Regions from separate parts of the Homo sapiens genome. Here region 2 is linked to region 1. Evidence: fine-mapped expression QTL. Tissue or cell type: unexposed skin. Region 1 holds a variant in brackets; the other region holds the start of a gene. All regions are shown on one strand. Distances are from middle to middle.

Evidence for each region. PIP is the estimated chance that this variant, and not a neighbour inherited with it, causes the effect.
Region 2: it holds the start of GNA15-DT, and the variant in region 1 is fine-mapped to the expression of GNA15-DT in unexposed skin (GTEx, PIP 0.99).

Annotation. Positions count from the first base shown.
Region 1 is chr19:2,657,828-2,665,928 of GRCh38, forward strand. The region is part of intron 1 of GNG7 (G protein subunit gamma 7); the gene reads right to left. Among named protein-coding and RNA genes, the nearest start is that of MIR7850, 31 kb to the left of the region's middle. The variant G/A (reference allele first, on the strand shown) is at 3,756.
Region 2 is chr19:3,150,587-3,158,687 of GRCh38, forward strand. GNA15-DT (GNA15 divergent transcript) reads right to left here and starts at 4,589. Exons shown (of 4, transcript NR_110670.1): 1 at 4,432-4,589. It overlaps GNA15 (G protein subunit alpha 15), which reads left to right. Exons shown (of 7, transcript NM_002068.4): 4 at 1,121-1,249; 5 at 5,237-5,366; 6 at 7,142-7,295. RefSeq lists enhancers at 4,205-5,162, 4,450-4,779, 4,820-4,909.

The DNA.
Region 1 (8,101 bases):
GAGATAGCAGTAACAGAATTAGTGAAAGTACTAAAAGTCTCTGAAATGCGGAAATAATGGCGTAAGCTGTCTCCTCTCTCTCTCTCTCTCTTTGCCTCGGCTGCCAAACAGGGAAGGGCCCCATGTCCAGTGGACACATGACCTTACCTATCATTGGAGATGGCTCATACTCCTTACCCTGCCCCCTTGTCTTGTATCCAATAAATAACAGTGCAGCCTGGCATTTGGGGCCACTACCGGTCTTCATGTCTTGGTGGTAGTGGTCCCCCGGGCCCAGCTGTCTTTTCTTTTACCTCTTTGTCTTGTGTCTTTATTTCTACGATCTCTCGTCTCCACACACGGGGAGAAAAACCCACAGACCCTATAGGGCTGGACCCTACAGTTCTCAAACGCCCCTCACCCAGTTTCCCCTCATGTTAGTATCTTACATCTGGGGTCTGCAAATTTTTTCTGCAAAGGGACAAAAAGTAAGTATTTTATGCTCTGTGAGCTAAAGGGTCACTGTTGCATATTCCTCTTTGTTATTTGTTTTTTTACAACACTTTTAAAATGGAAAAGGCTTTTTAGCCCCGAGCTTTATAAAAATAAGCCAAGTATAAACAAAACGTGGTACATCCCCCGAAACCAAAATGTACCCCCGTGTTCACAGCAGCACGATTCACCACACCCCAAAGGCAGAGACACCCAAGTGACCACCGAGAGATGAATGGATAAACACAATGTCATCCATTATGCCACGGAATATGATTCAGCCTGAAAAAGGAAGGAAATTTTGACATGGGCTAGAGAGTGGATGAACTTTGAGGGCATCACGCCCAGTGAAATGAGCCAGATGCAAAAGGACAAATCCTGTGTAACTCCACGCTTAGGAGGTCCCTAGAGAGTGAGCCACACCAAATGTAAACTGTAGCTGTTAGTCAATAATCATGTATCCACTGGCTCATTAGTTGTAACAAATGTAGCACATTAATGAGAGAGGGTAACATTGGGGGAAATGCGTACCTTTTCGGGGAGAGGAGATAGGTGGGAACTCTGCCTTCTGCTCAATTCTTCTTTAGGCCTAAAACTGCTCTAAAAATAGTCTATTAAAAGGGGGACTTGAAGAGACAAATTGTGAGAGTTGTATCACGAACCAAGCGTTCTGATTTTTTTTTTTTTTTGAAATGGAGTCTCGCTCTGTCACCCAGGCTGGAGGGCAGTGGCACAATCTCGGCTCACTGCAAGCTCCACCTCCCGGGTTCATGCCATTCTCCTGCCTCAGCCTCCCGAGTAGCTGGGACTACAGGCGCCCGCCACCACACCTGGCTAATTTTTTGTATTTTTAGTAGAGACGAGGTTTCACCGGGTTAGCCAGGATGGTCTCAATCTCCTGACCTCGTGATCCGCCCACCTTGGCCTCCCAAAGTCCTGGGATGACAGACGTGAGCCACTGCGCCTGGCCTTGATTTTTTTTAAATAAAGGAGAGGAGGGCCGGGCGCGGTGGCTCACGTCTGTCATCCCAGCACTTTGAGAGGCTGAGATGGGGGGATCACCTGAGGTCAGGAGTTTGACAGGAGTTTGAGACCAGCCTGGCCAACATGGCAAAACTCCATCTCTACTAAAAATACAAAAATTAGCCAGGCATGGTGGCACTTGCCTGTAATCCCAGCTACTTGGGAAGCTGAGGCAGGAGAATCGCTTGGACCTGGGAGGCGGAGGTTGCAGTGAGCTGAGATCACGCCACTACACTCCAGCCTGGGAAATAGAGGAGTGAGACTCCATCTTAAAAAAAAAAAAAAAAAAAGAGAGGAGGGGAGGGAAAGAGGGAGGGAAGGAAAGAGGAAGGGAGAGGAAGAGGGAGAAAGGGTGGGAGAGAGAGGAAAACAGAGTGAGAGGGAGGGAGAGAGGAAGGGAAGGGGAATGAGTGTGAGCGAGGGAGGGATGGAGGAAGGAAGGAAGGGAGGGAGGGAGGGAGGGATGAGGGAAGGAAGAGGAAAGGAGAGACACCCACTTTAGACAACATGATCCGTAAGCACTGACATTTATGACTGGATCCCCTTCCACAAGCTTCCTGAATAAGCCCCAGAGAGAAGACTGGTCAGTCTTGGCCAAATGGATTTTCTGCTTTCCCCCGAGCCCCTGTGAGTATCATCACAATGTAATACCATGAGGATCAAAATCTCCTGGCCACTTAAGCCTGGATTAACCCACACCAGAGCCATCCTCCTCACCGAGGGGCCATGGCGGCGAGCGGATCACACAGCAGTCCTCATGGAATCCGTCCCAATTAGCCTCTGTCGGATTACTCACAGAACCTGCCATCCGTGGAAGGCAGATTAGCCTAGGATGCATGTGTAAATCCCATTTGGTGAACGAAAGCATATTCTGGAGATGATTAGCTTATTTCTGCAAGATGGCATCAAGTGGGAGATAACACATCTTCATCCCCGTTACACCCACAAGGCTCTGTGTAATTCTCCCTGAGCCTCATCCCTTTCCAATCCTGATTCCCTGTGGGAGAAACACAATTCCTTCCATTGAAGGGTTGATGCTGTGGGTAAGACCTTTTCATCCTCCTGCTCCAAAACCACAGGGAAGGGAGAAACTGGACGTATATTTTTCATCTGTTTACCATGTTCCTGCCCTCAAAGGTACAAGAAGACAAGCTAGAAAGTAGACGAGGCTGGGTGTGGTGGCTCACGCCTGTGATCCCAGCACGTTGGGAGGCTGAGATGGGAGGATGGGGGCCTAGGAGTTCAAGACCAGCCTGGGCAACATAGTGAGACACCCCCACCACCAACACCCCACCACCATCTGTACAAAAAATACAAAAATTAGCCAGTCGTGATGGTGTGCCCCTGTAATCACAGCTACTTGGAAGCCTGAGGCAGGAGGATCACTGGAGCCCAGGAGTTCAAGACTGTGGGGAGCCATGCTCATACCACTGCACTCCAGCCTGGGCAATGGAGGAAGACCCTGTCTCAAATAAATAAATAAAGACACAGTGACTTTTGCTTGTTCTTTCTTGGGTCATGTGTTCTGGGGGAAGCCAGCTGCCATGTTGTGGGGAAATGCAGGCAGTGCTGTGAAGAAATCCATGTGTTGCAGAAATGGGCCCTCCAGGCCGGGCACGTTGGCTCACACCTGTAATCCCAGTACTCTGGGAGGCCGAGGCGGGCAGATCACCTGAGGTTGGGAGTTCGAGGTCAGCCTGACCAACATGGAGAAACCCTGTCTCTACTAAAAATACAAAATTAGCCGGGCGTGGTGGTGCATGCCTGTAATCCCAGCTACTAGAGAGGCTGAGACAGGAGAATTACTTGAACCTGGGAGGCGGAGGTTGCAGTGAGCCAAGATCGTGCCACTGCACTCCAGCCTGGGCAACAAGAGCAAAACTCTGTCTCAAAAAAAAAAAAAAGAAAAGGAAAGAAAGAAAGAAAAGAAAGAAAGAAAGAAAGAAAGAAAAGAAAGAAAGAAAGAAAGAAAGAAAGAAAGAGAAAGAAAGAAAGAAAGAAAGAAAGAAAGAAAGAAAGAAAGAAAGAAAGAAAGAAAGAAATGGGCCCTCCAGGCTGGGCACAGTGGCTCATGCCTATAATCCCAGCACTCTGGGAGGCCAAGGTTGGGGCAGGTCATTTGAGATCAGGAATTTGAGACCAGCCTGGCCAACACAGTGAAACCCTATCTCTACTAAAAAAAAATATAAAAATTAGCCAGTAATTGGCTAATTACTGTAATTATGCCTGTAATCTCAGCTACTCGGGAGGCTGAGGCAGAA[G/A]AATTGCATGAATCCAAGAGGCAGAGGTTGCAGTGAGCCAAGATTGTGCCACTGCACTCTAGCCTGGCTGACAAAGTGAGACTCCATTAAAAAAAAAAAAAAAAAAAAAGGAAGGAAGGAAGGAAAAAAGGAAAGAAGGAAGGAACGACTCATTTGGGCATTTTGCCCTCCTGTCAAGGCCAGTTGGAAGCTGAGGCCTCCACCAACAGCCACATGAGGGCGCCCTCTTGAAAGCAGCTCCTCCAGCTCCAATCGAGCCTTCAGATGATACAGCCCCAGCACATTCACTGCCAGAATCACCCAGTGGAGCTGCTTCCTAACTCCTGAGTGAGGGTGGAAAAAACTCAAACTCAAATTGCTTTTCCTCTTGCTCTCACATCAACAGCAATCAACATGGCCAGGTGCAGTGGCTCACGCCTGTAATCCCAGCACTTTCAGAGGCCAAGGCAGGTGGATCACTTAAGATCAGGAGTTTGAGACCAGCGTGACCAACACGGTGAAACCCTGTCTCTACCAAAAATACAAAAATTAGCCAGGCGTGGTTGTGGGCACCTGTAATCTCAGCTACTCAGGAGGCTGAGGCAGGAGAATCACTTGAACCTGGGGGGCGGAGGCTGCAGTGAGCAGAGATTGCACCATTGCACTCCAGTCTGGGCGACAGAGCGAGACTCCATCTCAAAAAAAAAAAAAAAAAAAAATCAACCCAAGATATTTCTGTGACCAAATGTGAGAGGAGTTTCCCCACACACCAGCTAGCTGTCCCCTAATTCGATTCAGTTCAATTCAATTCAGGTGCTATCTACCTGGAGACAGCCTTGGACCCCACAGGTTGAGGGCTAAATCCCCCCACAAGACTGCCCCTAACCTCTTCAGATACCAGTAGCAAGTTTGGGCCTCCAGAACTTCCAACTGACCAGCTTGAAGTTAGGGTTGGGTTTAATTTACTACAGCAGCTCTCGGAATTCAGGGAAACACATTTACTGGTTTAATATAAAGCATATTACAAAGAATACAGACGAAAAGATGCATAGGATGAGGTATAGGGAAGAAGGGCAAAGCTTCCTTGGCATGCTACCCTTCAGGAACCTCCATGTGCTCAGCTATCTCAAAGTTCTCCAAACCCCGTCCTTTTGAAGTTTTATGGAGGCTTTACTTCATAGGCATGACTGATCGCGTCACTGGCCACTGGTCATCACCTCAACCTTCAGCCCTTCTCCCCTCCCCAGAGGCTGGAGGGTACAGCTAAAGGTTCCAGCCCTCTCATCCTGCCTTGATCTTTCTGGTGGCCAGACCATTCCTGAAAATAACTAGAAGCTGTCAGCCATCAGTCGACTTATCATCATACAAAAAGACATGACTTTGCAGATTCCAAGGATTTTAGGAGTTCTGCACCAGAAAAAAATCAGGACAAAGACCAAATAATATAATAAATATAATGCAAGTAATATAATATCCCACTGACCCACAGAAACTGCAGGATAGTAAATGCTTGCTGTTTAAGCTAAGTGTTGGGGTAATTTGTTACACAGTGATAGATAACTGGTACATCTGCAAAGGGAAGGAAGGGCTGATCCACATGACTCCTCCAAGCAGATGTTGCTATAGTTTGAATGTGTCTCCCAAAAAGCATATTGTAGAAACTTTAATTCCCAATGCCACCATGTTGAGAGGTGAGAACTTTAAGAGGTGATTAGGTTATGAAGGCCCTACCCTCATTAATGCCATCTCTCTTTCTCTCTCCCTCTCACCCTTTCTCTCTCTCTCCCCCCCCTCCTCTTTCTTCCCCAGTTCCCCAATCTTTCATATATGTGCTCTTTTGCCCTTCCACCTCTGACGCAGCAAGAAGGCCCTCACCAGATGCCAGCACCTCGACATTGGACTTCCCAGTCCCTAGAACCGTTAAGAAACAAATCTCTATTATTTATAAATTATCCAGTCTATGGCATTCCATTATAGCAGCACAAAATAAAGACAGGTGTGTAGTCAAACATTACCTTTTCCTAAAAGCCAGCAATTGGATTTTTCATTTTCTTGTTTTTCCAATATCTATCAACCTGATAATTGGGAGAGATGCAAAAGCCCAGATGGATAAGGTACATTCACTGAGGGCAAATCAGAAGAATGACCAGGCCAAGAAAATGATTCATTTTGGCATTTTGCAAATTATCAAGATATGCATGCCAGCACCAGTTTTTAAAACTGAACAAATCCACTGGCTTTTATCTATTTCCTACTAAAGCAACGTGGCTTGATCTTGACACTATTAAACTGGGGCTTGATTATTCTCTGGGGTGGGGCCGTTCTGGGCACTGCACAGTGCTGAGTAGCATCCCTGGTCTCCACCTACTCCAGGCCAGGAGCACCCCCAAGTCACGGTACCCACAAATGTCCCCAGACATTACCAGTGTCCCCCAGGGGGCAGGCTTGCCCCCAGTTGAGACCCAATGCTCTAAGGCATGTCCCTCAAGGGCAGGACAGCCAGGGACCTGACATTTGATGACAGGCCTATCCTCCACCGCCCCCCAGGCCCGGCTGCACTTCCTCCTCTGGGAACTGAGTGGGCAGGACGGGCTGTCAGAGCCCCCTTCCCTTCCCACGCTGACATTCTGCCAGCACGTGGCAGGGGCGTCTTGTCTCGTTGGAGGCTGGATATAGAAACACAGCCCTGTCCTTTGTGCCATCGCTGAAGTTGTCAACCTCAGCCTTCACTCATCACCACAGCAACCATCTAAATATGTCACCAGCAAAGTGCTGATTGCAAAGGAAGGGGGCAGAGAGGCCTGGACGGGCTCTCACCCAGGTGCAGGCGCAGGGGAGGTGCCGGGACTGGGGGAGTGACGTGGCTGCTTCAGAGCCACGAGACTGATGACGGCCAGGCCGGGCGTGACCTGGAACAGGCTCCACTGCACCCTGGGGCACACAGAACAAAGGGGCAGGCCTGCTTGACCCTGAGGGTTCAAGGTCTCTGTGAGCCGAGGTCAAGGAGGGGGAAGGAACAATCAGACGGTTGGCTCTGTGTCCTGCACCCTCAGTGCTCTAGAGACCCTCCTCACCCAGTCCTCTAGGTCACTCTGGGAGGATGGCCCCGGCTGACACCGTCTGCCCCATCGGGAATCTATTCTGGTGTCTACTGTGAGCAGGGAGCAAACTCATTTTTTTGCCAGTTAATGCAAGGTCTCTCCCCTGGAAACCGTGGACATTCAGAGCTGGGTCATTCTCTAGGGTGCAGCTGTCCCGGACACTGCAGGGTGCTGAGCAGTGTCCCTGGCCTCCACCCACTCCACGCCACGACCATCCTCAAGTTGTGACAACGACAAATGTCCTCAGACAACACCCAGTGTCCCCTGGGGCAGAATCACCCTCAGTTGACACCCCCTGAATTAGGAAATTCCACGGACCCCCAAGATACTCTGTCCCCTGATCTTCTGTCCTGCTGAGGTCCCAGGAGGCTGCACACATTGAAATCCACACCTTTAGTTGGGGGGAGGGAGAGAGGAGGTGAATCCCACGAGCTGGGGTCCCCTGGTTTACACCGTCTGCCCCATCAGGAGTGTGTCCTGGTGAGCAGGAAGCAGACTCCATTTCTTCTCCAAATAATGAATGCTGAGTCTCTCCTCCCAGGCACGGTGGACACTGGGGCTGTACCATTCTCTGGGATGGAGCCGTCCTGAGCACTGCAGCACGCTGAGCGGCATCCGTGACCTCCAGCCACTGCATGCCCGGAGCACTTCTCAATGGTGACAGCCACAAATGTCCCCAGACATGGCCCAGTGTCCCCTGGGGGGGGGGGGGCAGGATCACCCTGCCGTGCTGGACAGTCCTCGCCACACCCCACCTCTTGGAACTGGAATGTCTGGTGAGACGGGCAACAAGGATTTGGGAAGAGGGCCATGCGGGACAAAAAAAAGAAAGAAAATGAGAACGAACGGATTTCTATTTCCCCTCAATGTGAAAATAGCTCCACTGAGTCCCGAGGAAGGATTGGGTGGGGACGTACGCTCTGGTATGGCCAAGGTGGAGTGCTGGACAAGAGCTACTCCATTCTGACTTCACGACTCGCTGTCTGGCTGGGTGACCTTCAGTCCCTTGCCACTGTCGCTGTGCCTCAGTTTCCCACTCTGTAGAATGCACATCGAAGCAGCATCCACCCTGTGAGACTGGTTTTGGAGATTACATAAATGAGTATCTATAAAATGTTTAAAGTGGTGTCTGAGCCATGGGTCATGGCACATACTGGCTTTATTATTTAGAACCTGGATTACCTCCTTTTATTATTCTTTTTCAATTTATTTTACTTATTTTTTGAGATGGAGTCTTGCTCTGTCATCCAGGCTAGAGTGCAGTGG
Region 2 (8,101 bases), 490 kb after region 1:
GTTCTAGGAGTGACTCTGTTCCTGAGGGAATCCAGTTCCTTGGGGAGACCCTGTTCTAGGGGGTATCCTGTTCCTAGAGTGACCCTGTGCCTGGGGTTCCCTGTTCCTGCGAGGACCCTGTTTCAGGGGTGACCCTGTTCCTGGGGGAACCGTATTCCTAGAGTGACCCTGTTCTTGGGGGGAACCCTGATCCTGGGGGGAACCCTATTCCTGGAGAACCCTGTTCCTGGAGTGACCCTGGGCCTTGGAGTCCCTGTTCCCGTGAGGACCCTGTTTCAGGGGTGACCCTGTTTCTGGGGGGACCCTGTTCCCGGGGGTGACTCTGTTCCCAGGGAGACCCTATTTCCTGGGGGATCCTGTTCTGGCGTTGATCCTTTTCCTGGAGTGACCCTGTTCCTAGGGGTGATCCTGTTCCTGGGGGGACTGTATTCCTAGAGTGACCCTGTTCTTGGAGGGACCCTGTTCCTGGGGGGACCTTGTTCCTGGGGGAACCCTATTCCTAGAGAACCCTGTTCCCGGAGTGACCCTATTCCTGGCGGGAACCTGTTCCTAGAGTGCCCCTGTTTTAGAAGGGACCCTTTTCTGGGAGTGACCCTGTTTCTGAGGGGACCCTATTCTGGGGGGACCCTGTTCCTGGAGTGACCCTGTTCCTGGGGGGACCCTGTTCCTAAAGTGACCCTGTTTTAGGGGGGACTCTGTTCCAGGGGAGACCCTGTTCTGGGGGTGACCCTATTCCTAGTGGGATCCTGTACTAGGTGTGATGGTGGATGTCCAAGGTGGCTTGATGTCTGGGAAGACTGTTCCCAGGCTACCAGCATTCTTGGGGTAGCGCCACCCCTGCCATAGCAGCTCTCCCGGGGGACACCACTCCTCGATGAGGCCATTCCTCATGTCACGCCATCCCTCGGGTCACCCTGCTCTGCGTGTGAAGCTGCTTTTCCTTGGGGCTCCATTGCCTCAGGTGGGGGACGCTCCTGGGCCATCTGCCAACTCCAGGGACCCCACCTCCACCCAGGGAGCTCTCCTCCCCCAGCAGGGTCCTTGCTGGGCCTTTCGTAGGGCCTGGGAAGCAAAGGGAGGCTGGCTGCAAGGCTGGGCCTCAGGACTCCTTGCTCTGCAGCTACCTGTCCCACCTGGAGCGCATCACCGAGGAGGGCTACGTCCCCACAGCTCAGGACGTGCTCCGCAGCCGCATGCCCACCACTGGCATCAACGAGTACTGCTTCTCCGTGCAGAAAACCAACCTGCGGTGAGCGCTCCACCTAGGCCCAGCCTAGGGGGCAGGGAAGGCTTCCTGTAGGAAGGGCAAAGGAGCTGGGGCCCTGAGGGATGAGTAGGAGTTTCTTAGGCCCAGCCTTCAAGGAGCTGCCAAGCTAGGGGAAGCAAAGCTCCATGTAGACACCTCCAGGCCCCCAGGTAGTCAGGACTGGGACCTGTAGGAGCCCAGGCTGAGGCATCAGAGATCCAGGAGGGAATATCTTCTTGGAGGAGGGAATATTAATGGGGTTTTGAAAGACGAATAGGAGTTCAGTAGTCCTAACCCTGAAGGGGCTGCTGGGGAGGAGGAAATAGAGACTATACAGTCAGGACCAGGTCTGGGGAGGCCTGGTCTGGGGAGCTCAGAGGTGATCCCTGTAGTCATCAACACTGGGGGATGGACTAGAGTGTGAGGCTGGAAGTCAGGAAACTCAGAAAAAGGAGGAGCCAGGACAGCGGGCGTGGGGATGGAAAGGAAGGGATGGGCAAGAGTTGTTTCTGATGTGGAATGGGCAGGACTGGATGAGTGTGGGAATTAGAACAGGAAGTCAAAAATGACACCTGAGTTTTTTGTCAAGGTGATGGGGGTAGACAGTGGAGCCGGTGGGCTAGAGGATGAAAAGGTGGTGATGGAGTCCTTTGGGACAGGTTGAGTCTGAGGGGCCTAGGGGGACTCCACCTTAGCTGGCAGACAGAGGTGGGAATGGCCAGTGCAGCACCCTAACCCTAACCCTAACCCAGCAGAGCAATGGCCAATGTCAAAGGTCAGGAAAGGAAAGGTCAAGAATACAGTGAGAAGAATGACTCTGGGATTGGCAGTTAGAGGGTCACTGGTGACCTTAGCAAGATCTGTTTCCATGGGCTGATGGCGGGGAGCTGAGCAGGGGTGCAAAGTCATGCCCAGAGACAGCGATTGTGTTTGACCTACCCCTATTTGGCCTTCCTTTCCCTAAATCCCCCAAACCTATTGTTTTGGCCTCTTCAATAGTCCTTACTAGGAAGGTTCATAATTTATCTGTTTTCTGTGGGTCTCCTCTACAAGATGGAGAGCCTCACAAGGTTAGGGGCTGAGTTTGATTCTTCTGCTTCTTTAGTGAATAGCTAAAGGTCAGAGTAGAAGTTGGTAAATGTGGGTGGATGGTTGGAAAGATGGAATGGGGGCAACCCGCTCGGGTCCCCTTCCACGCTGTGGAAGCTTTGTTCTTTCGCTCTTCACAATAAATCTTGCTGCTGCTCACTCTTTGGGTCCACACCACCTTTAAGAGCTGTAACACTTACTGCGAAGGTCTGCGGCTTCATTCTTGAAGTCAGCGAGACCGAGAACCCACGAGAAGGAACCAGCTCTGGGACACAATAGTAGTGTTAGTACCCAAGGATGACTTCTATGGGAGAGATACTTGGTCTGGGAATCTTTAAAAAAAAAAAAAAAGGAAAGATGGAAGGGAATGGATGGGTGGATGAATGGGTGGATGGATAGATGAATAGATGGATGGATAAGTTGAGGGATAGATGAGTGGATGGATGGAGTGGCAGGATGGATGAGTGGATGAATCAATGGATAGATGGATGAGTGGGTGGATGGATGAATGGATGGATAGATGGATGGATTGAAAGAGGGATGAGTGGATGGATGGATGGATGGATGGTTAGATGGGTGGATGGGTGATACATGAATGGATGAGTGGGTGGATGAGTGGATAGATGGATAGATGGGTGGATGAATGGGTGGATGGATGGGTGAATGAGTGGATGGATGAATTAATGGGTAGATGGGTGGAAGGGTGATGGGTGAATGGATGGGTGGGTGGATTGGTGAGTGAAGGATGGATGGATGAGTGGATAGATGGATGGGTGGGTGGGATGGATGAATGGATGGATGAATGGGTGGGTGAATGCATGGATGGATGGGTGGATGAGTGGATGGATGGATGAATGAATGGGTAGATGGGTGGCAGGTGATGGATGAATGAATGAATAAATGGGTGAATGGGTGAGTGAAGGATGGATGGATGAGTGGGTGAATGGATGGATGAATGGATGAGTGGATGGGGGTGTGGGTGGGTGGATGGGTAGATGGGTGGACGAGTGAGTGGATAGATGGGTAGATGGATGTATGAGTAGATGGATAATGGGTGAACAGATGGGTGGATGGATAGATGAGTAGATGAAGCGATGGATGGATGGGTGGATTGAGTAAATGGGTGGACAGGCAGGTGGATGATGGATGGATGAATAGATGGGTAGATGGATAGACGGATAGATGGATGGATGAGTGAATGAATAGATGGATGGGTGGATGGATAGATGGATGGATGGGTGGGATGGATGGATGGATGGATGGATGAATGGGTGGATGGATGGGTGGATGAGTGGATGGATGGATGAATGAATGGGTAGATGGGTGGTGGGTGATGGATGGATGGATGAATGGGTGGATGGATGGGTGGATGAGTGGATGGATGGATGAATGAATGGGTAGATGGGTGGTGGGTGACGGATGAATGGATGAATGGGTGGATGGGTGAGTGGATGAATGGATGAGTGGATGGGTGGGAGGGTGGGTGGATGGGTACATGGGTGGATGAGTGAGTGGATAGATGGGTAGATGGATGGATGGGTAGCTGGGTAATGGGTGGACAGATGGGTGGATGGATGGATGGATGAGTAAATGGAGAGATGGATGGGTGGGTCGGTGGGTGGATTTCGTAAATGGGTGGACAGGTGGATGGATGATGGATGGATGGATAGATGGGTAGATGGATAGATGGATGGATGAGTGAATGGCTGGATGGGTGGATGGATGGGTGGGTGGATGGATGATGGATGGATGGATAGATGGGTAGATGGATAGATGGATGGATGAGTGAATGGCTGGATGGGTGGATGGATGAGTGGGTGGGTGGATGGGTGGATGGATGAGTGAATAAATCGATGAATGGGGTGGGTGGGTGGATAAAAGTTTAGGAGTGAAGGTAGAGGCTGGGAAATCATGGGGAAGTCTGGGCCAAGGAAGTGATTTTTAGGTGTGGCCCAGGAGTGAGACGAATGAATGGAGTGAGGGCTCAGAGGACACTGAGACCCGAGATGAGAGGTGATGCCCACAGTTCCCAACTGGTCAGTTGCTGATCCCACTCCCGTCTCAGTCTCCAGAGCCCCCTCTCGACGGCTGCTTACCCTGTCTGGCTCTGGATGTGGGGTTTGAGGGACTCTGAGGATGCATGGGAGGAGTGGGTCTCAGGGATCAGGAGACACATCCAGCAGCTGCAGCCTAACTGCTTCATCATCAGTCCCGGTTTCCCCTCCTGTGCAATGGGGCAAGTCCCTTCTTGCTTGAGGCCCTGGGCCGGGCCCGTCCAAAGCCTCTGTTCTGGGACTTCCTGAGTAACGGTTGCATCCCCAGGGAAATGACGCACAGATGGTTATCAGCGACCCACATTTCTCAGAAGAGAGAGAACAGGAAGGTGGGGGCAGGGTTCAGGCTTTTGTTACGGTGCGTGGGGCTGAGTCACAGATGGAGGGGAGGACGTGTGCTCTGGGAACAGCCCTCATTCCCATCTGTGTGGCCACTGGACATGCCCATGGCCAGCCAGAGCACAGGAGCCCCATAGCACAGATGGGAAAACTGAGTTTTGGAGATGTTTGGCAATTTCCTCCGCCGGGTCGCCCAGCCAGCACCAGGGCACATCTCAGATCTGTCCAACCTGCTCCCCTCTAATATGGGGGTAGAAAGCAGGCAGCCCAGCACAGTAGAAGCTTGGGAAAGTCCCCGCTCCTCCCTGGATCTCAGGCTTCTCATCTGTAAAATGGGCGTAAGACTCATCCTTGCCTCGCGGGAATGACATGGCAAATCCACGAGAGGCTAGCACCTATTCTTGCTGTCGCTATTATGGATCTTGGCATATCCCAGACGTGATGGGGGTTGGGGGTGTCACGGAGCAGGCTCCTGAGCTCTGAAAGGGGGCACCTCGGTTCCCTGTAGGATCGTGGACGTCGGGGGCCAGAAGTCAGAGCGTAAGAAATGGATCCATTGTTTCGAGAACGTGATCGCCCTCATCTACCTGGCCTCACTGAGTGAATACGACCAGTGCCTGGAGGAGAACAACCAGGAGGTGCGCCACCGCCTCCCTCGCCCTGCCCACTTGTTGGCCCAGGGACCCTCACCTGAGCAGGAAGCTCTGGTGCAGAAAGGGAGGGATCCCTGCTCTTGAACGGGCCTGTGTGTGCCCAGCATGGCTATGAACTTGACCCTTCAGCCTTTTGTGGTCAGATTGCAGCAACCCAAGACACAGACCTACAGCATTTGTTTGGTCAGGACCCCAGACACACACACACACACACACACACACACACACACACACACTACAGTGCACACACGCACATACACAATGCATGCACACAAACACGCACAGACACGTGCATAATACATGCACATACACACGTGCACACACGGGACACATGTACACACGCAGTGCACATGCACAACACATGCACACGAACACACATGCACCACACACATGCACACTTGCATGCACTCACGTGCACAATACACGCATATGTACACATGCGCACACACATGAACACACACATGCACACACACAGTACACACATGCACACGCACACACAGGCACACACACGCACACACAGGCACACAGGCACACACATGCGTGCACACACACATGCACGCACACGCACAGGCTGGAGTGCAGTGGCGCGATCTCGGCTCACTGGAAACTCCGCCTCCCGGGTTCACACCATTCTCCTGCCTCAGCCTCCGGAGTAGGTGGGATTACAGGCACCCGCCACCACGCTCGGCTAATTTTTTTTTTGTATTCTTAGAAGAGAGGGGGTTTCACCATGTTAGCCAGGATGGTCTCAATCTCCTGACCTCGTGATCCGCCCGCCTCGGCCTCCCAAAGTGCTGGGATTACAGGCGTGAGCCACTGTGCCCAGCCAATAGCCTCTTTTAATAAGTACACCAGTCGTCTAGGATCAGGGCCCACCCTACTCCAGTACGACCTCATCTGGGTTAATTCCTCGTGTGATGGCCCTGTTTCCAAAGAAGGTCACAAACTGAGGTTCTAGGGGGTTAGGTCTTGAACGTATGAATTTTGGGGAAATATGATGTACCCCATAACACAAGGCATTTGAGACCTTATTGTACTTTTTTTTTTGAGATGGAGTCTCGCTTTTGTCGCCCAGGTTAGAGTGCAGTGGCGCGATCTCAGCTCACTGCAACCTCCGCCTCCCGGGTTCAAGCGATTTTCCTGCCTCAGCCTCCCGAGTAGCTGGGTTTACAGGCACCTGCCATCATGCCCGGCTAATTTTTTGTATTTTTAGTAGAAACGGGGTTTCACCATGTTAGCCAGGCTGGTCTCCAACTCCTGGCCTCAGGTGATCTGCCCGCCTTGGCCTCCCAAAGTGCTAGGATTACAGCCGTGAGCTGCCGCGCCCGGCCAGGTCTCCCTCTTCTTATGAGGACAGCAGTCACGGACTTGAGGGCCACCGTATTCTAGTATTGCCTCACCTTAACGACCTCTTCAAAGACCCTATCTCCAGGCCAGGTGCAGTGGTTCATGCCTATAACCCCAGCACGCTGGGAGGCCAGGAGTTCAAGAATCTCTCTCCAGATAAGGTCACACTCTGAAGCTCTGGGGGGACATGAATTTCGGGAGGACACACTTCCAACCAGCACAGGCACAAAACCATGTCAGGCACACCCAGGCAGCTGTCCATATGGAAACACGGGCACACCCGCCTCAGCCCCAGCCAGGCAGATAGGGGTGAGCCCATGCCCCTGGAGCCAACAGCCCCGTCTCCGCGATGGGAGGGTTTCCTGTCCCACCTGGCTGGTTGAAGCACTAACCTGCTTCTGCCCCCAACACAGAACCGCATGAAGGAGAGCCTCGCATTGTTTGGGACTATCCTGGAACTACCCTGGTTCAAAAGCACATCCGTCATCCTCTTTCTCAACAAAACCGACATCCTGGAGGAGAAAATCCCCACCTCCCACCTGGCTACCTATTTCCCCAGTTTCCAGGGTAAGTAATTCTAGAACTTTCTATACCCTTCAACTCCCAAAAGCAGCTCCGAAGAGAGATGCTAATCCAGACTCTACTTCAGCCTGGAGTCACCGGAACTTTCACATAGGATCAGACCCGCGTTCTAGACTCAGCTCCATCCACTGCCCGACCTCATTGAATCTGTTTTCCCTTCTGTGGAATGGAATAAAATAGCAGAGGCCCTTGGAACTGAGTAAAGTGAGGAATTCTAAAAACACGTAGCATATCACGTACACCTTAAACATTTTATTTATTTATTTATTTTTGAGACAGAGTCTTGCTCTGTCACCAGGCTGGAGTGCAGTGGCGTGATCTCGGCTCACTGCAACCTTTCCCTCCAGAGTTCAAGCGATTCTCCTACCTCAGCCTCCCTAGTAGCTGGAACTACAGGTGCGCGCCACCACGCCCAGCTAATTTTTGTGTTTTTAGTACGAAAAGACGGGATTTCACCATGTTGACCAGGATAGTCTCGATCACTTGACCTCCTGATCCACCCGCCTCAGCCTCCCAAAGTGCTAGGATTATAGACAGGAGCCACCATGCCCGGCCAAACATTTTATTTTATGCTTGTTGGCCAACATTTGGGGTTTGAGCCAAGATCCTTCAAGCATGGGTTTGCTATGTAGAGGTCACTGTTGTAAAGCACTTCTGGAAAGATTGTCTACTATTTCCAGAATCTGCCTAGGTTTTAAGAATGATTCTTTTTCTTTTCTTTCTTTCTTCTATTTTTTCTTTTTGAGACAGAGTCTCACTCTGTCACCCAGGCTGGAGTACAGTGGTGCGAT